2 separate regions of the Homo sapiens genome follow, and region 1 is linked to region 2. Evidence: fine-mapped QTL for protein levels in blood plasma. A gene starts in region 2. The other region holds a variant in brackets. All regions are shown on one strand. Distances are from middle to middle.

Region 1 (12,050 bases), 550 kb before region 2:
CCACATTCTTGGCTAGGCCATAACATGGATGACCCTTACTCCAATTTCTCAACAACTTTCTCATTTCCATTTGAGAACTCTTCAGCTTGGAGTTTGCTGTCCATATTTCTATAGGTATTTTGGTCAAAACGACTTAACAAGTTTCTAAGAAGTCACCAAGTTTCCCTTATGTTCATGTCTTCTTCTGAGTCCTCCAGACTCTTCCAATCTCAACCTCTTACCCAGTTCCAAAGCCACTTTTACATTTTCAGTTATCTTTACAGCAATGTCCCTCTCCTCAGTACCAGTTTTCTGTGTTAGCCTATTTGCATTGCTAAAAAGGAATACCCAAGGCTGGGTAATTTATACAGAAATGAGGTTTATTGGGCTCACAGTTCTGCAGGCTGTACACAAATTAAGTAAATAGTGCTGGCATCTGCTTCTGGTGAGAGCCTCAGGATGTATTCAATAATGAATAAGATGTCACTTTTTAAAGCTCTAATTTATAAATCATGGGAAATAATATCTACCACAAGTTTAAAAAATACAATTATTATGTAGTATGATATCTAAATTAATAGGTCTTTTTAAAATATAGTTTTACTTAAATTTTCTAAAGGCATTTTGATATTAACAAACTCATTTTATATTATTTAAAATGGTATTAATAAAATAAGAACTCCAACATACGAAGAGAAATAGAAAAGAAATATCACATCCTTTTGGATAGAGAAAATCTTTTTTTTTTCTTTTGTTTTTGCCAAGGAGTGCATGTATGCTATACATTTTTCAGTGTTATTAATTCCAATAATGCCATATCAAAATCCAGTCTTCAAATTTTTCATATAGATTTATAGACTCAAACAGAGGTGAAACACAATCTCTGAGTAATTTATATATCCTGCTCTGTGTGAGCCTACATGTCTAATTTCCTTTCCCCAATGCTTCTGAAAACACATTAGGACATGTTTGCAGTATACACTACTATTAGTAATTGAAGTATTAATGTTGTTTGGGTATACTCATTACTATAGCCACCATTTTAGATTTATTCTATGATATGGAAATAATTCAGTTCTGTAAAGATACAATGGTGATTTATTTGGCTTCTTGGAGCCACAAAAGTCTTCAAAAGAATTCTTTTATTTTTTCTCCTTAATGAAACATCTACTGCATTACATTCTCATCCCCCCTTTAAATGCAATCTATATGTCACACTTAATTTTACATATCCTTTTAGGTCACACTTAGACTTTTACATGGTAAAATGCACAGCTATAATATAATTTACATATTTGATATTTGATAACGAATACATGAAAATTTCTGACCAAAAAATTACTGAATTAACTAGAAACAATTTATAGATTTGATATTGTTTTCTGGGTGAATTAACACTATGAATATATTATTTAAGAAACAAAACCATACATTTATAATTTTTTAAATAAATAAGTCAAATGTCAATTTAAGATGATCTCTATATTTAATTTTAAAATCTTACATCTAATATTTTTAGTGCTGCTATTTTATTCTGAGAGCTCAGAACATCATGTTTACGTTTTTCAAAGATACTGATTTTCTTTAAATAGCATAAAATCCATACATAATTTAACACATTGATATAAGAATTTTGACTTATTAATTGTACATTCAAGCAAAGTCTATATAATTATTGCTTTAATCTGTCTTTTCCCTTTGCCCTGTTTTGTTTCTTTCTCCTTTTCTTATTTTCCATTGCCTTTCTTCAAAGCTAATACATACAACAGTCCAGGTATTTCTGTTTTAAACCTTTAAAATAATGTTTATTTTCAAAGAACAGCTGTAGGCACATCATATTTTCTAGGATTTAAAGCTTAAAAATTATTGAAGATTAAATTGTTCATCACATGTCACACCACTAATACCTTTTGTTTTAAAAATACTACCAGGATAAATAGAGTATTTTTAATTTTTCCCATAACAATGCTTATATAATACAGATAACTCACTCTGCCATAATATATTTGTAAGAGAATTTTTAATGGATTATATAAGCCATATCATTAATACTTAAATATCATTATGTAAGAACAGTTTTAATACAGTACTTCTGAGTATACACCTTTGAGTTCATTGACCATTATATTTACAGCTGATGCAACATATCTTTGAAAATTGTATGCTTTGTACACGATTAGAAGATTAGTGGTTTTTGTAAGTTTATTACAATTTATATTATTCACTTATTATAGCATACATCGGCATGATATTACTTTAGGAGATATTAGGCAATTCAATGAAAATGCAATGTAATTTTGTTCTAATTACACTAAAAAAAAAGATAAATAATCAAAGCTTTATTCTCAAATTGAAACTATTGAGTTAAAAACCAATATATGCTTTCCAACACTTTAGTAGAAAATTTTGCGTCAAAAAACTGCATATTTAACAATCTCTACCTACCCTCTGTTGCCCTTTTTAAAGAAAGAGATTATTTGTGAATGTGTTTATAAACCATTATGTTATTTATCTAAAACAAAATTCCACATGCTTGTGAATAAGTAATTGTTTTTATGTTTAGACATTATTTAAACTCACAGTTTGCTAAGAGAACTATTTTAATTAATTTCTATTTCAAGAATAATACTTGCTATGACATTTCTAGTGTTTTCTCAAAATTCTTAAATTTATAAATAGACTACACACACATACCCATATACGTGTGTGTATAGATGGATATATGAAATATTAAGAATAAAATTATCACTAATATTGTCAACTTCATAAGAATGTCAAATAATTGAGGCACAAAGAACACATCTCATGATTAAAAGAATTATACATCAGATCATTAGAAAAAAAATGTTACATAAGTTTGATCCAGAAAGCTTAGTTTATTTGATTAAAATCATTATCATTCAATCATAAGACTTTATTTACTTCTTTCTTTGTATTTATCTATTTGTAGTGCCAGAATACACACACAAGCATATATACCTATATATGTGGATATACTATGTATTATTGGCTACTTTGTTGTATTTTTATTTCATTTCTATTATTTGACAAACTCACACCTAAATTTTGGGTATCTATACTCAATTCTTATACTATGCTACATGAGTTAATTGGCCGATAGTTTAACCCACAAACAAAATATGTTTCAAAGTGTGATCTAATATACATTTCCAGAACATTATAGAAATATATGTATATATTTCTATCTGTTGCTATTAAAATAAAAATGCATGTGGAAGAAAATTCCAGTTATTTTATTTTCTATTCATTGCAAATTAGTGTGTATTGTTTCATAAAGTAAATCTTTAGTGTTTGGTTTAAATGATTTGTGTGCAAAGCTTATGATTCCTTTAGAAATGTATTCCAAAAGTAAAAGCAATTGTGCTATTTTTTAAAGTGAAAAACCACATCTCTGTAATACTTTATTTTCTTTTTATTTCTATTTCTCATGTCTATGTTTTACATTAGCACAATCTTAAATGTAATTTAAAATGGCATAACATAAAATGGTCAGAGAAAATATATATCTTTTAGAATACAATTCCTGATAAATAATGCAATCATACATATTCTTTATTTCAGAATACTTTTTTCTTCTCTCATTCATTAAATTGATTCTATTTTGACTTTAAGAATATATTTTATCTGCAAAACCACAATATCAAAAACTTTCATGTCTCTAGAAGTCCAAATTTATATCTATGTACTTTAAAAACAAAATAATTCTTGAGATTAATATTAGCCTTTCTTTTAAGGGAGACATTCTTTTTGCCCTCACCTTCTGCCTTTTAACAATAATTTAGGTATCAAATCATTTTGCACTTTTTTTTTGAGACAGAGTGATTGACCTGTCTCTCTCCCGAGTATCTGGGAGTACAGGCGCCCACCACCACGCCTGGCTAATTTTTGTATTTTCAGTAGAGACGGGGTTTCTCCATGTTGGTCAGGCTTGTCTCAAACTCCTGGCCTCAGGTGATCTGCCTGCCTCAGCCTCCCAAAGTGCTGGGATTACAGTTGTGAGCCACTGTGCCCGGCCCATTTTAGCACTTATTAAATAAATTATTTGACAGCCTTCATATTCATTAGAGTTGCTCCTAAGTCAAAGAGACTGCTTAAGAAATTATCCAGGCCGGGCGCGGCTCGACGCCTGTAATCCCAGCACTTTGGGAGGCCGAGGCGGGTGGATCATGAGGTCAGGAGATCGAGACCATCCTGGCTAACAAGGTGAAACCCCGTCTCTACTAAAAATACAAAAAATTAGCCGGGCGCAGTGGCGGGCGCCTGTAGTCCCAGCTACTGGGGAGGCTGAGGCAGGAGAATGGCGTGAACCCGGGAAGCGGAGCTTGCAGTGAGCCGAGATTGCGCCACTGCAGTCCGCAGTCCGGCCTGGGCGACAGAGCGAGACTCCGTCTCAAAAAAAAAAAAAAAAAAAAAAAAAAAGAAATTATCCACTGTGATTAAGATTTTACAAATTTAGAAATACATCTTTTCACAAATCAAGTCAAATGGAAACTATTTTATCTCAGAAATAAATTCAGGCAATCAACATTGTAACAAAGGCCATTTGGCTCCCAATTTTATTGTGATAGGGCTGTATAGGTTACAATACACTGCATTTCCTCAATTGGGTATATAAAAACCCACCACTTATTAAGTTGTAGTATTAAGTTTTCATGTGAATTTATAAGCATGTCTTATACAACAATGTAAAATTTTCCCGCGTTAAATTCAGATGCTCATAAAAAGCCAATACTGCACAAAAACGTTCCATTAAAGTCATACAAATTTAGAGGATTATTTAGAACCTATTTTTTAAAAAGAAAATATTTTGACTATTGTTGCCATCTGACACATGCCAACCTTATGTTGAATAATATTTTCAGATGAACAGATCTATCTAATCCACCTTTCATATTTCTCCTTCTGTGCCTAAATTATTTCTCATAACATAATGCCTTCCAGGCTTATCTATGTTGCCTCAAATGACCATATTTTATTCTTCGTATGGCTAAATAGTATTCCATTGTGTATATATACCACATTTTCTTTATCTATGCATCTGTTGATGGTTATAATCAGCCAATTGCTCCCATAATAAATGAAATTAACACATAGAATCACATGGCTAATAAAAGGTTCAAATAGAGACTTTCAAGCAACCATTCTATCAAGCAATCATTGTATTTTCAGAAACAAAACTCTTTAGACAATATCCAAGTCAAATTCAGTTTCACGAAATCTTTCCAAAAACAAAACTCTTTAGACAATATCTAAGTCAAATTCAGTTTTGCCAAATCTTTCCAATAATATTTATCTTTCAGTTAAACCCCAATTGAATGAGTCTCAAAGCTTATAATAATTATTAATTTGGGGACATCATATTTTTTTCTAGTTTGAATTAAAGTCAGAAAAATCAATTGGGAAATTTTACTTTTGAGGATTTTTTAAATCTTCAAATTTCTAAGACTTCAGAAAAATAGGAAAAATAAAATTATATGGGTAAGCACCCATTTGTCTACGTTGAAAACAGAAGAAATGGAAATGGCTGAATATTATCAAATTATTTTTATTTTCTAAGTTTTCCAATTCTAACATAAAAAATAGAGCGTTCGATCTACAACAAGAGAAAATGTCTAATTTGTGGATCTCTATAGAAACCCACTCAGTATCTACAGGCTATAAGTCAATATAAAATTTTAATAAATAATTATTTTCTATAACACACTCTGTCTGACACACACACACACATGCACACACACACACACACACACGCCAGATCACATTGTGGCATTCTTATTCAGTAATAATATTTTGTGAGTTGGGGATGGAGAGATGTAGGATTTTACTTTGAACTGTCAGAGACTATAGTTTTCCCTTGAGCAGATATTTTGAAACGAAAAGCTCTTTAGTTAGTTTTAATGGGTTGGGTTCCAAGTGTTTCCTCTCTTTCCCTCTAGTGTCTCACCATGCAGGCACACAGTTACAAGTTCACTTTGTTTTATAAATACCACAAAAAAAAGCCACATAAGAAAATTGCTTTGTCTGAGGGCTGTAGCCAGAACCTCACAACACTTGGCAGCATCACCAGGAATTTGCCCAAGTTAAACTATCTGCTTTAAAAAGTGTGTGTGTACACTTCTTAAATTATTAAAGCTTTCGAATGATTCAT[G/A]CTTTTCTTTTTTTAAAACTTTTATTTTAGGTTCACAGGTACACATGCAGGTTTGTTATTTCTGGGTGATGAAATAATGTGTATACCAAACTCCCAGGTATTTCCTAGTTTGTAGGGTTTACTTTCCCTAGGTTATGGTTTCCCTGGGGGTTTGGTGTACAGATTATTTCATTACCCAGGTAATGAGCATAGTATTTAATAGGTAGTTCTTTGATCCTCACTCTCCTCCCAACCTCCACCCTCAAGTAGGTCCGGTGTCTGTTTTTCCGTTCTTCGTATCCATAGGTACTCAGTGTTTAGATTCCAATTATAAGTGAAAATATGTGGTAATTGTTTTTCTGTTCCTGTGTTAGTTTACTTAGGATAAGGGACTCTAGCTCCATTCATGTTCATGCAAAGTACATGATCTGGTACATTTTTATGGCTATGTAATATTCTATGGTATAGATGTAACACATTTTCTTTATCCAGACTACCCAATAGTGAGATTGCTAACAAGAGGTTGAATAGCAACTCTGTTTTATGTTCTTTCAGAAATTGCCAAACTACTTTCCAGAATAATGATTTAAACTAATTTACATTCCTACCAGTAGTGTATAAGCATTCCCTTTTCTCCACAACCTCACCAGCATCTGTTATTTTTTTGACTTTTTAGTAATAACCATTCTGAGTAGTGTAATATGGTATCTCATTGTGGTTTTGAGTTGCCCTTCTCAAATAATTAGTGATACTGAGTATTTTCTCATCTGCTTGTTGACTGCATGTGTATCTTATTTTGAATATGCCTGTTCATGTCCTTTGTCCACTTTTCAATGGGATTGTTTTTGGCTTGTAAATTTAAGTTACTTATAGATGCTACATATTGCACTTTTGTTAGATGTACAGTTTGCAAATATTTTCTCCTATACTGTAGGTTGTCTGTTTATTCTTTTGATAGTTTCTTTTGCTGTGAAAAGCTTTTTAGTTTAATTAGGTTCCATTTGTCAATTATTTGTTCCTGATGCAATTGCTCTCAGCATCTTCGTCATGATATAATTGCCCAGTTCTGTGTTCAGAATGTTATTTCCTAGGTTATGTTCCAGGGTTTTTATAGTTTTAGGTTTTACATTTAAGTCTTTAATTCACCTTGAGTTGCTTTTTGTATATGGTGTAAGAAAGAGGCCCAGTTTCAATCTTCTGCATACAGCTAGCCAGTTATCTCATCACCTTTCATTGAATAGGAAGTCCATCACCATTGCTTGTTTTTGTCGACTTTGTCAAAGATCAGATGGTTGTAGGCGTGTGGTCTTATTTTCTGGGTTTTCTATTCTGCTCCATTGTTCAATGTGTCTGTTCTGTACCAGTACCATGCTGTTTTGATTACTGTAAGCTTTTAGTATAGTTTGAAGTCAGGTAATGTGATGCCTCCAGCTTTGTTCTTTTAACTTAAAATTGCCTTGGCTCTTTGGGCTCGTTTTTAGCTCCATATAAATTTCAAAATAGTTTTTTTCTAGTTCTGTGAAGAATGTCATTAGTAGGTTGATAGGAATAGCACTGAATCTATAAATTGCTTTGGGAAATAATAACATTTTCACAATATTGATTCTTCCTGTCCATGAGCATGGAATGTTTTTCCATTTATTTGTGTCACCTCTAATTGCTTTGAGTAGCATTTTGTAATTCTCATTGTAGAGATTTTTCACCTCATTGGTTAGCTGTATTCCTAGGTATTTTATTCTTTTTGTGACTTATGAATGGAATTGGATTCTTGATTGGCTCTCAGCTTGTATGATTTTGGTGTATAGAAATTTTATATGTTTTATATATTTATATTTAAATTATATATTTTATATATTTACATTGATATTAATTTTTGTACATTGATTTTGTATCCTGAACCTTTGCGGAAGTTTTTTTCTTTTTTTTTCACATCTAGGACCTTTGGGGCAGAGACTATAGGGCTTTCTAGGTATACAATCATATCATCAGCAAACAGGGATAGTTTGACTCCCTCTCGCCCTATTTAGATGTCTTTTACTTGTGTCTTTTGCCTGATTACTCTGTCCAGGACTTGCAGTACTAGTTGAATAGGAGTGTTGAGATAGCTCATCCTTGCCTTGTTCCAATTTACAAAGGGAATATTTTCTGGTTTTGCTCATTCAGTATGATGTTGGCTGCGGGTTTGTCACAGACAGTTATTATTTTGACATATCTTCTTGCAGTGTCTAGTTTGTTGAGGGCTTTTAACATAAAGATATGTTGAATTTTATTGAAAGCCTTTTCTGCTTTCAATATCCAAGATGATTATGCGCTTTTTGTTTTTAGTTCTGTTTATGTGATGAATCATATTTATCAATTTGCATATGTTGAACCAACCTTGCATCCCAGAGATAAAGCCAATTTGATTGTGGTGAATTTGCTTCTTAAGGTGCTTCTGGACTCGGTTTCCTACTGTTTTGTTGAGGAAGTTTGCATCTGTGTTCATCAAGAATATTGGAATGAAGTACATTGTTGTTGTTGTCTCTCTGCTAGGTTTAGGTATCAAGGTGATGCTGGCCTCATAGAAAAAGTTAGAAAAGAGTTCCTCCTCTCAATTTTTAAAAATAGATTTATTAGGAGTGGTACCGACACTCCTTTACACATCTGGTAGAATTCGGCAGTGAATTCACCTGGTCCTGGGCTATCTTGGTTGGCAGGCTTCTTAACTGATGTGATTTTGGAACTTGTTACTGGCCTGTTCAGGGATTCAATTTCTTCTTGATTCAGTTTTGGGAACTTGCATGTGTTCAGAAATGTATACATTTCTTCTAGATTTTCTAGTTTGTGTGCATATGGTTGTTCATAATAGTCTCTGAATTTTTTTTTTTGTATTTATCTGGGGTCAGTGGAAATGTCCCCTTTGTCTTTTCTAATTGTGTTTATTTGAATCCTCTCTGCTTTTTTCTATATTAGTCTAGTATTGGTCTGTCTATTTAAACTTTTTTTCAAAAAAAAAAAAACAACTCCTGGATTTGTTGATCTTTTGTATGGTTTTCCTCACCTCAATTTCCTTCAGTTCAGATCTGATTTTGACTATTTCTTGTCTTCTGCTAGCTTTGGTTTGCTCTTGTTTCTATAATTCCTCTAGTTGTAATGTTAGATTATTAATTTAAGATCTAACTTTTTGATATGGACATTTAATGCTATAACCCTCCCAGTTAACAATGCTTTAGCTGTGTCCCAGAGATTCTGGTATGTTATATCTTTGTTCTCATAAATTTCAAATGAAGTCTTGATTTCTGTCTTAATTTTACTATTTACCTAAAGGTCATTTAGAAGCTGGTTGTTTAATTTCCATGTAATTATATGGTTATGAGTGGTTTTGTGTCCAGAATTGGTGGGCTCTTGGTCTCACTGACTTCAAGAATGAAGCTGTGAACCCTCGCGGTGAGTGTTACAGTTCTTAAAGGCGGTGTGTCAGGAGTTTGTTCCTTCTGATGTTCACATGTGTTCGGAGTTTCTTCCTTCTGGTGGGTTCGTGGTCTTGCTGGCTCAGGAGTGAAGCTGCAGACCTTCGCGGTGAGTGTTAACAGCTCTTAAGGCGGCGCGTCTGGAGTTGTTCATTCCTGCTGGTTGGTTCGTGGTCTCGCTGGCTTCAGGAATGAAGCTGCAGACCTTCACGGTGAGTGTTACAGCTCATAAAGGCAGCGTGGATCCAAAAAGTAAGCAGTAGCAAGATTTATTGCAAAGAGCAAAAGAACAAAGCTTCCACAGTGTGGAAGGGGACCCGAGTGGGTTGCCAATGCTGGCTCCCACAGCCTGCTTTTATTCTCTTATCTGGCCCCACCCACATCCTGCTGATTGGTAGAGCTGAGTGGTCTGTTTTGACAGGGTGCTGATTGGTGCGTTTACAGTCCCTGAGCTAGACACAAAGGTTCTCCATGTCCCCACCAGATTAGCTAGATACAGAGTGTCCACACAAAGGTTCTCCAAGGCCCCACCAGAGTAGCTAGATACAGAGTGTGGATTGGTGCATTCACAAACCCTGAGCTAGACACAGGGTGCTGATTGGTGTGTTTACAAACCTTGAGCTAGATACAGAGTGCTGATTGGTGTATTTACAATCCCTGAGCTAGACATAAAGATTCTCCACGTCCCCACCAGACTCAGGAGCCCAGCTGGCTTCACTAACCCAGTGGATCCCACACTGGGGCTGCAGGTGGAGCTGCCTGCCAGTCCCGCGCTGTGCGCCCGCACTCCTCAGCCCTTGGGTGGTCCATGGGACTGAGCGCTGTGGAGCAGGGGGCGGCTCTCATTGGGGAGGCTTGGGCAGCACAGGAGCCCACGGAGTGGGGGAGGCTCAGGTATGGCGGGCTGCAGGTCCCGAGCCCTGCCCTGTGGGGAGGCAGCTAAGACCAGGCGAAAAATCAAGCACAGCAGCTGCTGGCCCAGGTGCTAAGCCCCTCACTGCCCAGTACCGGTGGGGCCGGCCGGCTGCTCCAAGTGCAGCGTCTGCGGAGCCCACGCCCACCCGAAACTCACGCTGGCCCACAAGCACCACAGGGGAAGCCTGCGCCTCTCCCTCCACACCTCCTCGCAAGCTGAGGGAGCCGGCTCCAGCCTTGGCCAGCCCAGAAAGGGGCTCCCACAGTGCAGGGGTGGGCTGAGGGGCTCCTCAAGTGCCGCCAAAGTGGGAGCCCAGGCAGAGGAGGTGCCGAGAGCAAGCCAGGGCTGTGAGGACTGCCAGCACGCTCTCACCTGTCAATTTCCTTAAGATTCATTTTTATTTTTATTGTCCTGTGGTCTGTGACTGTGGTTGGTATAATTTCAGATTTTTTGAATTTGCTGAGGATTGTTTTATGTCTGATTATATGGTCAATTTAAGGTATATGCCATGTGCAAATAAAAGGTAACGTATATTCTTCTGGTTTTGGGTGGAGCATTCTGTATGTATCTATTAGGTTCTTTTGGTCAAGTATTGAGTTCAGGTCCTAAATACCTTTATTAGTTTTCTGCCTCAGTGACCTTTCTGATACTGCCAGTGAAGCACTGAAGTCTCCAATCATTATTGTGTGCCTGCCTAAGTCTCTTTGTAAGTGTCTAAGAACTTGCTTTATGAATATGGTGCTCCCGTTTGGGGTGCATACATATTAAAGATTATTTAGGTCTCCTTGTGGAATTGCATCTTTTACCATTATGCAATGCCCTTCTCCATCTTTTTTAATCTTTGCTGGTTTAAAGTCCACTTTGTCTTAAATTAGAACAGCAACCCCTTCTTTTCTTCTGTTTTCTGTTTGCTTGCTAGATTTTTCTCCACCCCTTTACTTTGAGCCTCTTCGTGTCACTGCATGGGAGATGGGTCTCTTGAAGACAGCATACCATTCAGTCATGCTTCATTATCCAATTTGCCACTCTGCCTTTTAATTGGGGGACTTCCACCTATTTATATTCAAAGTTAATGTTGATATGTGCAAATGAGTTCCTGTCATCATGTTATTAGCAGGTTATTATGCAGACTTGTTTGGTTGGTTGCTTTATAGTGTCACTGGTCTATGTACGTAAGTGTGTTTCTGTAGCAGCTGGTAATGTTTAGCACTCCCTTTGGGATCTCTTGTAAGGCAAGCCTTATTGTAACAAAATCCCTTGGCATTTGCTGGTCTGAAAATAATCTTATTTCTCTTCCAATTATGAACTTTATTTGGGTTGGATATGTAATTCTTTGTTGGAAATGCTTTTATTTAGGAATGCTGACCATAGGTCTCCTTTCTCTTCTGGCTTGTAAGATTTCTGTGGAAAGTACCTCTGTTAGTCTGATGGGCTCCTTTTTGTAGAAGATCTGCTCGCCAGCTGCCTTTAACATTTTTTTTCTTTCATTTTATCCCTGGAGTATCTGAGGACTATGTGTCTTGGGGATGGTCTTCTTTGGTAGTATTTCACCAAGGGT
Region 2 (12,050 bases):
GCAACCTTCACCTTTCATCTGTATTAAAGAGGTACATGAGCAGCTGGTGGCAATCAGCCCAAGTAGGATTATCAGTCTGTATAATAGTTTGGAGCAAGTCAATTAAAGCTTGAGGCTTTTCAGTGTAAGATGGAGTATTAGTTTTCCAACTGAGGAGGTCAGCAGAGGTGAAAGGTTGATACACAAAGGAACGCCTTTCCACCATGTGTCCATCCTCCTCTACCCCAGTATATTGCTGCTCTCTCAGGGGCATTTGGATTCCAGTCTTGGGCCGTAAGAGAGCTGCCAAGGGAGGAGTTTCTCCTGTGGCTTCACTTCCTCTTTTGTCTACTCTGGGTGGTCTAGGAGTGTGGATATCTGGTGGAGATGGAGGAGCTGTGGGCTCAGGAGTGGGGAGCTCTTCCTCTCGATAAGGAGGGGACACTGCTGGGACCAATTCCTGCCATGATTCTTTTGTTGTTGGGTCAGACAGGACTTTTGGTGCTGACTTCCCTCAGCGGGTGGAGCGAGAACCTTCCCTAACTAACTGTCCCTTTGCTACTAGTACTGCTGCCTTCTGTCCTCTTAACCGCTGTGGGGGATCCAAAACTAGCTGTGACAAAGAATCTATATACGGGAACTGATCTGGGTGCCCTGGCTTACAGGTTACTCTGTGCCATACCTTCAAGACAAGGGACCTGTCCAGGCTTCCTTCTGATGGCCAACCCACCTCTAATGCTGGCCAGTCTATCTCACACAAAGTTCTAAGTTTTCCTGGTGTCATAGTAACTCCATAGTCTCCCTTAAATCCCTTTTTGAATTTTTTCAACATAGTTCCTAATGAGGTGGGTTTACTTTGTGCCTGACCCGTGGTTCCTCGAGACAAACGCCACGCTTACACCACACACACAACACAAAACAAAGAATGGGTAAAAAGGGCACACACACACTTTTACAGTTTACATCAAACCAGAATCAAAACCCAAATCAGAGTATCAAGAAATCCAAGCCAGGTCAAAACCAAAACCAAAGTATCAAGCAATCCAAGTCAAGTCAAAAACAAAATCCAAACTGCCTGTACAGGCACATCATGGGTGATCAGGCCATGCTTCCACTCAGGGGGAGTGGGCTAGTTCTAAAGACCAGTCTTACCAAATTTCAGATGTCTGGACTCCAAGTGTCACTTCCTTCCCGGTGTTCAGCCACTGCATTGATCTTCCATGGGGGCCTGCCACAAGCTGTTCTGGTGAGGCATTCCACTGGGGCAACTGCCTACCAGGGAGCGCTCTCAGGATCCACATCACTCTAGCTGGCTGGAGTCCCCTGCAGGGATGCTCCACAGGGCAGGCCTAAGCTGCCTAAGGGGCTGCCTCAACCTTCGGCTAATCACCTCGCTTCCAGGTCAGGGAACCAAGACAGGTCAGGGAACCAAGAAATGTAGCAGGACAAGCCGCAGACAAGAACACTTCAGACACTGAGTTATAGAAGGAAAGGGCTTTATTCAGCTGGGAGCATCGGCAGGCTCACGTCTCCTAAAACTTAGCTCCCCCAGTGAGCAATTCCTGTCCCTTTTAAGGGCTTACAATTCTAAGGGGTTCCACGTGAGAGGGTCGTGATCCATTGAGCAAGCAGGGGGTACGTGACTGTGGGCTGCATGCACCAGTAATCAGAATGGAACAGAACAGGACAGGGATTTTAATGATGCTTTTCCATACGATGTCTGAAATCTATAGATAACACAAGCAGTTAGGTCAGGGGTTGATTTTTAACTACCAGGCCCAGGGCTCAGTGCTGGGCTGTCTGCCTGTGAATTTCATTTCTGCCTTTGTAGTTTTTACTTCTTCTTTCTTTGGAGGCAGACATTGGGCATAAGACAATATGAGGGGTGGTCTCCTCCCTTAACTGAATGAGTAAGTGATTCATAACTTTAATGTTAGCTTTTGAAGTTGGTCCAGGACAAAAGCAAATAACGGAATATGATTAAATTTAGCTACCTAAGAATTATGGTATACGAATAAAAATATAGTTTAAAATTATTTCTGTCTTATTATGCTTTATAAGCAAGTCTTTGGGAGTCTTTAAAAGAGATCAAATGAATAGCCTTTAAATACATTAAAGTTTGGTTAGATTTCCTTCTAAATAGTGTAAACAGTTGTGTCTTTTGAAGGGCAAACCATGAAATCTGACCATTAACTTTCATATAACATACAGAAAATTGTTGTTCAGCTCTTAATTAGTGGAGTAATGGTGGCATAATATTGTATATATGTATATTTATATTCATTTATTTGCTCTAATTCAAAATTTATCTGACATTTTACATAGGTTTAAATTTTTTGTCTGTTTTCACAAAAGTATGTGGAGCTTTTATTCCCAGATTTCTTAGGACAATAGGTAGAAATCTTAAGAACTTCCTGTTCAAATTTAAAATTATCTATTAACATTTTCTCTAATCTGGAAAGTCTATAGTAGATGCCAACCCTATTTCGTGTTTGTGTTGTTTTGCCAAAGTATTTTACTTCCACACTTTTATTGTCAACTTTTATCTTGTTTGCTTTATAATCTTGTTTGCTTTATAATCTTGTTAATAGTAGAAAATATCCTCTTCTAGCCTCTTTCTTTGCAAATTTTTATTGGAATTTTAATATGAGCATTCCATTTATGGTGATCATCTTAACCAAATCACTGTGCCATGAAGTTCTCATCCCTTCCACTTAATGTCAAGTTTAATTGACCTTTTTGAAGTTCTATCTTTCTTCTCAAACGTATCATCTTATATAGATATTTTTAACACTTGAGCTGTACTTTCTTCACCTACTTTAGCAATTCATACAGATTAGTTTTGAGCCATGTATTTAGATGTGGTGTCTTGCAACATATATATACACATATGTGCATATATATGTGTATATGTACAGATGTGTATACATGCGTATATATACAGATGTGTATATATGTGCATATGTGCATATATACAGATGTGTATATATGTGCATGTATACATGTGTGTATATGTGCATGTATACATGTGTGTATATGTTGCATGTATACGTGTGTATATGTGCATGTATACATATGTGTGTATATGTGCATGTATACATATGTGTACATATGTATATGTGTATATATATATGTATATTTACGTATATGTGTATACATGTGTATATATACGTATGTGTATACATGTGACTATATACGTATATGTGTATATATGTGTATATATGCGTATATGTGTATGCATGTGTATATATGAGTATATGTGTATGCGTGTGTATATATGCGTATATGTGTATACATGTGTATATGTGTGTATATATGTGTATATGTGTATATATGTGTATATGTGTGTATATAAGTGTGTATATACATATATGCGTATATGTGTGTATATACATATATGCGTATATATGTGTGTATGTACATATATGCGTATATATGTGTGTATGTACATATGTGTGTATATGTGTGTATGTACATATGTGTATATGTGTGTATGTACACATATGTGTATATATGTGTATGTACATATATGTGTATATGTGTGTATGTACATATATGTGTATATGTGTGTGTACATATATGTGTATATGTGTGTGTACATATATGTGTATATATGTGTGTATATATACATATATGTGTGTATATATGTGTATATATACATATATATGTGTGTATATATATATTGCTGTTTAGTACTGATTTACACTTTTAAAGATGCCTGTTTAGCTGTTAACATTCTTTATATTTCTGCTTTCAGAATATAATTTATATGTCTGGTAGTTTTCCTTTTCATCTGTCAAAATCAAGCATGGATAAATATTCTATTTAAAGAGACACATAGATCAATGCCTGTGGCTTTGAAATTTTTTAAACTATACATATTTCAAAATTACTCAAGGCAGAATTTTTTAAATAGCTTGGATAGTAGCTGAATGTCATTATATTTCATTAAGTTTTATCAAGTGGCATGCTATTGCGTGTTTACCCACCTAAATTTAGAAAGGAAGCTGATTGTAGTAATGACAGACAGGGATATGCCATGTATGTTTTGCTTTCCAACTTTTATAGATGTTCACAGTAACCACAATAAGGCATTGTCATCATGATCCAAGGACATAATGGATATCAGTTTCTGACATAGCATATATTGTCCTTGAAAATTGCACTGACAAAATGAGGGGTCCAACAATACTTCAAATAATAAAGAATAGATCAAGGATATTCCTACAGATCTAGGATATATGAAAACTATTGTGGTTCTAATATCCTTCTTTAAAATATGTTTTGCCTTAGTATCCAAGAAGTAAGGAAAATATATTTGCAACATTTACAACTATATATTTATTTTATATATATATATATATATATATATATATATATATATATATACATCTCATATGGTAATAATTTGGATAAACAAGTAATTTATTGAAGAGATGTAGAAAACTTTTTTAAAAAAATAGTAAGTTAAACTTAAGTTTCTGTTTAGCTTGCTATATTTTTACATCAGTCTTTTATATAGAAAGTAAAAACTTATCAAGAGATTATATAATAAATTTGTTATTAGGTCAGTTTTGGTTTATTTATTTTCTTCTGTTCACTATTATATGTGTCCACTATCAAACTTCCCCATTTAATTATGGTCATAGATAAGCTGCATTGATTTTGTATAAAATCTGTCAGCTTGTGTAAAACACATCTTTTCTCAGTTCTAAAATGATACACATTAAATGCAGAACTTTCAACTTGTAGTTGGGTTGCAAATGATTTTTTTCAGATCCCCTTGTAGAAAGAAGTTGAAACACCAATAATTTACTTGTTTTAGAAATAAGATGAATGTCAGTCATCTTTATTCAACTTTGCATGGTCATTATGCTTTTCTTACTATATGAAATAATAGCTTTTCTTTTCTTTTACAGATTAAAAAAAAGTCCTTTATACCCTTATACTGAATATTGCAACACTTTGGTATTTTCATTTTAACTCTATTGTAAATGGAGAAATTATTAACCTGAAGTAAAGTGATTGAAGTAACCCTGAATAAAAGTTATTCAAAAGCTATTTCAGTGACACAATAGCAATGGATATATACAGCAAATTGACTCTGATACAATGCCAATGATCACATCTTTTCACTCTGAATTAGTGATCATGGATATTTTTAAAAATATGTGTTTGGTGCAAACTTTGCAAATACACATAAAAATACTGGATTTTCTAATCCCTGAAAGAAACTCTCTTCTTTCACCTCTCAGTCGTGTAAGAGTTAACTCTGTTTCCTACAAGGATGCAATCTGTAAGTTAGGTCTGGAAGGCAGCAAAGGCAACCTGGACTTGAAGTTAACACTTCTGTTGTCAAGGGTTACTGATTGGGGGAAGGGAAGGGGCTGTAAAGGGAAAGAGTTACGGAAATGAAGAGGGATTGTAGCACACACTACATAAATTCAAATGCTTTACATGTATTTGGAATAAGATCTCGAGTCTGTTGTATTTTTGCATTGTGTTTTCATTTATTTAGTTTACACATAGGTAGTGAATTTATAGGTTGGTTGATGTTAACCTTATCCAGAGTGGCCCTTTCCAACAATGTTCATTCAGTTGTACATTACATATATGTAATAATTTTGTAATTAAATTGGAATTTATCACAATTATTTACATCAAAGACAATAAAATTATGTTACTTCCTAAATTATAATATCAGTAAATATCGTATCTAGGATTTTGTGGAAAGTCTATGTCATTTTAGTTTAAATAAGGATTTCTCTTTTCCTCCACAAAATTAAAGGTCAAAGAAAACAGCATGTTTAAGACTTCAAATTAATATATATTAAGATTCAGCATTTAATATTCTAATTCTTAAAATAACTGGCTTTACCGATGATGAACTAAAGTGATTTTGCACACTATTACAATATTTCAAATTGCTAGTCACCACAGGTCGGCCTCACTTTAAATCTCCTTGTTATGCCAATTTGCATTACTAATGAACTTGCTAAGAGAGAAACTGTAAAAAGATAATGTAGCAATTAATAGTAAATGCTTGACATACTGTGACATTATAATACCTTTATGTTGATTTATATCTTTATGTCAATATTTACAAGGAAAATATTTTTGAATTTCTAATTTTGCGAAGTAAAAATGATGCTGACGCCATTGTCATTGATGGAATTTTTTCTGTAGCATTTGACTAATATAACCCGTGTTTTATAATTGGTAGACTCATATTTTAGCTTCTACTATCTACTACCCATGTAAGGTATTTTATTTGTAGTAGCTATGAATTGTAAATACAATTGGGTGTTGTGTGTACCTACGTGAAGTGCAGAAGTATTTGATTATATAAAATTTCCTGGATTTATATGAGAATAATGCATAATAGAGAGCAAAAGAGGGTTTTCCTGCCAAAAGTGTCTGTGTGAATTTTCCTTCGAAAATGTTCTTTTAAAATCCTTTGTATGATCAAAGCCACTCCACACAGACAATTAAAAGCAGCTATGGAATGATAGATCACATGACAGGAGTTAAATGTAAGGGTTTTTTTTTTTTTTTTTCCTCCCCCCTCGGTTAAACATCGCAGCAGGCATTACAATACCAGAGGTAACGAATCAATTAAATCCATTTTCCCCTCGGCGTCTCCAAAGCTGCGTGCCTAGTGTTGCTGTGTAGTTTAGACCGGAGCAGTAGGACCCAGGGGCCTCCGCAGCCACCAATAGAAGCGCACACTTGGACCTATTTGTATGCAATGCCTTCTGCTCTGCGCATTAATAGTAATACAGATAACGGGTTTGAAAGAATTCTCTACTGAAGAAGGATTGAATTTTTCCAGGGTGCTGATACAGAGAAGAAACCCGACTTCACTCTCTCCCTATTTCCCCACTCTTAGGTTTAAAAGTCTGTCACCTTTCGCTTGGTTTAAACTCGGAAAGGTCTCAGTGCACAGCAAAGTTGCAGGGCTGCGTCTGCACTACGGAGCCTCTAGATTGCTGAAAACAGTCTTATGGAAGGGTAAGTCTCGGAAATGGTTGCAAGGGAAGTGACAGCTGGCTTTTGATTTGTAAAAGGGGACACGCTGGGTTTTACACTAGTGGTTGTTGGAGTGCAGAATGGTTGCCGAGAGGACTCTGCAGTTTATCCAGAAATTGTGGCTGATGCGCCAGGGTGTTTTGGGGTAGAATCAAAAACCTTCAGGCTAAATCGGAAATTGCAGCCTTGCGATCGGGAGGGATTCAACAAGTTTTCCTGCAGGGATGCGATGTTTGTTTCTTCCTTGCCAGTTGTGCAGAGTGTCCGTTCCAGGTAGGCTGCGGCTGCTTAACAAAGAAGTTTTGGAATTTGTTTGTTGTGTGTGTGGCTGGGCTAACCCTTGTTGGAGTAGGTTTCGTGCCGCTTTTGGCTTCTTGGGGGCACACAGCGGAATTTGCTCTAGGGATGCGGCGAGCATCAGCGGTGTAGTGGGCTGGGGCCGGGCAACTTTGCAGCCTAATCTCAGTGCCGCTGACCGCACCGTTGTTCGTGATGTGAGCTGACTGAGGCATAGACACGGGCAGGCTGCAGGGAGCTTCCAAACTTTGAAAGCATTCTCCAGGAATGGATGCGCGTGGGGGCTTTGAAAATAAGCGTTACTAGGTGGATTTTGGTAAACTCTTGGCGGTATGTAGGCAGTGGGGACTTTTGACACTTGCATTTCCAACCTGCAGGATTTTGCTTGAAAACATGGTGCTGATGTGAAGACGAGAGCTTAAAGCTAAGCCAGCGGGGACTTTGAGGGAGGAAATGAGGGAGGGAAGGAGGAAGAATGAGAGAAGACAGATGAATGAAAAAGGTGCGTCCCATCTTTCACACACAAAAACCACACGAGTGGGACGAACCAGGAAGCGCTCCAGTTGGTGGCGTTTAGCTGGAAAACGTATTGCAGGGAGGTCCAGGAGCCTCTGCATTATTGATGAAACGCCGTGCCCTTCTGGGGCCCCTTCTTGCTCCTTCTCCCTGCCCCATCTTGCCAGCCCCGCTTCCATGAGCCTTCGGTTCCAGCGTTGGCGCGGGTGCGGCTGCGCGCGCGGCTGGGTCCCACAGCTCTGAGAACACAATGGGGAGAAGCAGGCGAGCCCTGCGGGCGGCCGATGCGGAAAACTCGGCGTGGCAACCCCACTGCTGCAGCCTGGGCTGCCGCTCCACCCGGGGCAGCGGCGCTGCAGAGACGGCTTCTGCCCAGTTGCCACGCGCCCTGAGGTCTCGGAGGACCGCGTGGAGGGCGCTCACACCTGGCCGCTAAAATCCTGGGATACCCTTCTAGGAGTCACTGTGTCCCACGCAGATGGGTGGGGTGGGGGAGACGGAATGCTAAGACATCCCACTCCTGCCTCGAGTCGGAGCTCCCACTACTCAAATATCCTTAGTGTGCACCCCAAGCATCTAGAGGACCTGCGCCCCCAAGAAAAAAGGACACGAAGGGGGAAAGAAGGGAAATGTTGATGAGGCTGCAAGAGGGGAAGGAAAACAAGCAATTTAGGGCAATTATGGTCAATGGTCAGGCTTTTCTGGGCTCTTTTAAGTGGATTGATTTAGAGGAGCTTTGAAATGCTGTCCCTGGCCTGTCTGCGGCACTAAAGGGGGCAGATTTCCAGACGCAGGAACTCACTGGAGGCTCCTTCTATAGATGAAGGGAGGAAAGGGCAGGGCAGGAGGCTCATTTCACAGGGTAGTTTAACCCTGACCTCAGCACCTCCCACCCTTTCACGCCCCGCCAAGGAGTGCCCCGACCTTGTAAACTCCTCTGTGTCATCTGCCCTGTGTAAGTGATTTTCATCAAGCTGTGTGTTACAGAGGCCTGTTAAGAGATGGTTGTCTGTTTCCAAGTAGTGGTGGGAGGTTGTTTAATTTGGAGGTTGCTTGTCAACCCGGGCTGAGCGCACAGAGGAAGGAGCGTAGATGCAGGACCCTATAGAATGGGCCACTTGGGGTTGTCAGTTACTTGAAGGCTACACATCAAAGGAAATATACTGATTGAGCACCTGGGGGAAGACAATGCCATTTCATTTTTTCCTCGCTTTCCATGTGCCTCCTTTACTGTGGTTGTTTGGGAACTAGGATATAATAATTACAAAAAAAAGTTGAAAATCCACTGATTTATTTGGAAGCCTCATAACTGGGTTTTCAGGCCCAAACTTGTATTCTCCTAGCAGCTATTATTTTGAAAGCCTCAGTCTGACACCTTAAAACCTGCTTCTCTACTATATCTTGAGGAGGCACTGGTAACTTTCAAAGGCAATCTGTAAGCATGCATCATGTTGATTTTGTTAAAGGGAAGAGGCAGTGTTGGTAGATGTTCCATCAATATTTGCCCTTCCAAAATCGGCCCCCACCCCCCAAAAAAAGGAAGAGGAAGCAGCAGCAGCTCGGAGCAGATATCCAGTTGGTAAGATGACTTTGTTTCTTATGGACCTATACCTCTCCCATGAGGGATAAAAATTAGGATATCTAAGGAGTGGGGGCATTCACCTTATATTGTTGCCACGGTTTTTGGACTTCCTTTAGCCTTTTCGCACATATCTTCCTGCTCCATGCCTCTTCCAATTTAGCCCTGTAGGAGCTGCAGAATTGAAGCACAATGACACAGCTGCAGATCCCTGGTGGAGCCTTGCTTCAGAAAACAGCTGTTAATCACATGTTTGTTGTATTTTCCTATTTACTTCCTTTTACTTCCCTTCGCTTCCCTTAGCCTGTCCTTGAACCAGTGTTACCATCTTCTGGGCTCTACTCTATGAAGGTTAGTGATTTCCAGTGATATAGCACTGAGCTGAGCATGGGAGGAGGGGAGAGACTCAACAGCTGCCTAGGGAGTCCCAAAGGTTTAATGCCAACTTTCTCTTACCCTATACTGCACAAAATAAAGAACAAATACCCTAATATCTCCCCAAAGAGAACTGCATTGTTCTGTATAATTTTCTTTTATCTTATAACATAGTAGAATCAATTCAAATACAAAATAACATTGACCAGAGATGAAAAGGAAGCTATACACTTGTGTGCACTATTTGGAAAGTAGTGTTGTGCTTAGCTATAAAATCTCACTTTTTGGCCTTCATCTATACTTAATACATTAGGAACTACTTTTATTTAAGCAAGATTTAATGTATTACTTTCATTACAAAGCTGAGAAACTCTAGACACCACAAAGATGTGAATTTTAAATGAAAAAAAGCAAGGCAGTAAAGTAAGCCCCTGGCAGCTTGATGAATGAGCAGGTGCAATGCACCATTTGAAATGTATCTTGAGGTGAGCTTCCACCAATCTGCTGGAGAATGAGCTCCTTCTTGCCACCTAAACTCAACTGATTTTCCTCTTTCTGAGACCACAGACAAAAACATGATAGCATACAATAGGCTAGATTATGACCTGGTCACATAATCATTTATCTCTCTAAACTTGCTGTTGAAGTGAGCAATGTTACTGTTAATGTATTCATATTTGTACCTAAAATATATTAGTGCCAATTCTCCTAATTCTATAGGAAATTGAGGTCCTAGAAGGCTAACTGACTAATTCAAAACTACATAGGATAAAACTGTAGAAACAGTGTTAGTCACCGTACCTGCAATAGATATTTCACTTAATCCCCACATAACCCTTTCAAAGTAGGCTTTATTAGATGTCTACAACACATGAAGAGAATGAAGCTCAGAGAGTTTAAGGAAAATAGACATGACTATTCAGCCAAAAAGGGGCAGAGCCAGGATTAAAAACAAGTTCTTTCTCATGACAGAGTACATGCTTTTCTAGTATGTCATACTGCTGCTTTTAAGGGAGCCATTCTCTTCAGTTAACTGGACCTACCTATTTTCCCCCATATTTAAACAAGGAGTTTGATTATTCCTTGAATTTTATTTTAGTACTCATAATTTTTTAATCTCCTTGATATCTTTTTCATGTCCAAAGCATTATCTGCATTTCTCCAAGAGCAAACTTTTACAGTTACTTTCCAAGGATCTCATAAACAGTAAATAACTTTTTCAGAAAATATACCCCACCCCTATCTGCCACCCTGCCTGTATCATCTCTGGGGGTCAGAGCACTTGGGGAAAACTGAGGGGCTTTCCATTTTCTTTGAAATTTGTGCATATGTAGCCAGGATGCCTGCTAAGGATCCAGTACGTCAGTTTCAGCCAGTTGTTCTTTTCTGCCTTTCCATTTCTGCACACGTGTCTTCTCTAATCTGCAAAATTATCTTCTTCATTTGGCCAAACCCTATCCATTTGTCTAGGGTGGTTCATGTTCCTTCTCCACCATAAAATTTTTCTTATTATTCCAACCCTATTGCTGTTCCTTACCTCTGAAATTCCAAGTAATTTCCAATAACATCTGCTGTCTAATTTGGTCTTTATTCAGGGATTAAGAGGAGTAAGCTAACATTTTTTGAGCCTTTACCTTATATACTTTTACATACATTATCCATCAACTATAAATTTCTATTTCTTCATTATATTTCTGCATTTTGCCCTTATTATTTTTTCGCACTCGATAGTCACCCAGATGTTGTGATACATTTCCGGAGTTTCAGTAATGACATTCAAATTTTATATTTCTTGTCCATGCATTGCTCCTGATTGTCATACCTATATTTCCAAAGATCTAATTTCATCTCCACCTAGAAATGCATCACAAGCATTTTAAAGGAAACTGTCCTAAAGGAAAGCATTCAAAGCCACAGGTATCATCCTCCCTGCCACACTTGCTTATCTCTTTAGATTTCCAAGTGGTAAATAGCACATCATGCATCAAGACACATTCCTCTTTGCTATGTCCCTCTGCCTCATTCCCTATGATCATGTAGTGAAAAGAAAAAAAAAATTATGATTTTTCTCTTGAACTTCACCTCTTCTCCTCATGGGCCTGCCCTCCAATTCTTACTTCCACTTCCTGGGATCAGCCATTTGAAGTCATGTGCAACAAGTTTGGCGAGCTATCTGTCAGGGCAAAAATGACAATTTCTAAACTCCTTAGTCATTGAAGGTACTCTGTGATATGAAGCATGAATTCTTCTTTTCAGTCTTCAGAATTATCAATTA

Alleles and levels. Positions count from the first base shown, and alleles are read on the strand shown. Strength reflects both the effect of a copy and how common the allele is.
For the plasma level of the protein whose gene starts at base 6,744 in region 2, allele A in region 1 goes with a higher level than allele G (weak association).

Evidence for each region. PIP is the chance, under the fine-mapping model, that this variant and not a neighbour inherited with it causes the effect. Protein levels are from antibody-based Olink assays in UK Biobank. Linkage for the fine-mapping came from a reference panel and not from the study's own genotypes, which makes the PIPs less certain.
Region 1: its variant is fine-mapped to the plasma level of the ROBO1 protein (UK Biobank, PIP 0.96).

Annotation. Positions count from the first base shown.
Region 1 is chr3:80,313,141-80,325,190 of GRCh38, reverse strand. No RefSeq gene overlaps it. Among named protein-coding and RNA genes, the nearest start is that of LINC02050, 450 kb to the left of the region's middle. RefSeq lists an enhancer at 10,187-10,686. The variant G/A (reference allele first, on the strand shown) is at 6,149.
Region 2 is chr3:79,762,692-79,774,741 of GRCh38, reverse strand. It overlaps ROBO1 (roundabout guidance receptor 1), which reads left to right and starts at 6,744. Exons shown (of 31, transcript NM_002941.4): 1 at 6,744-6,990.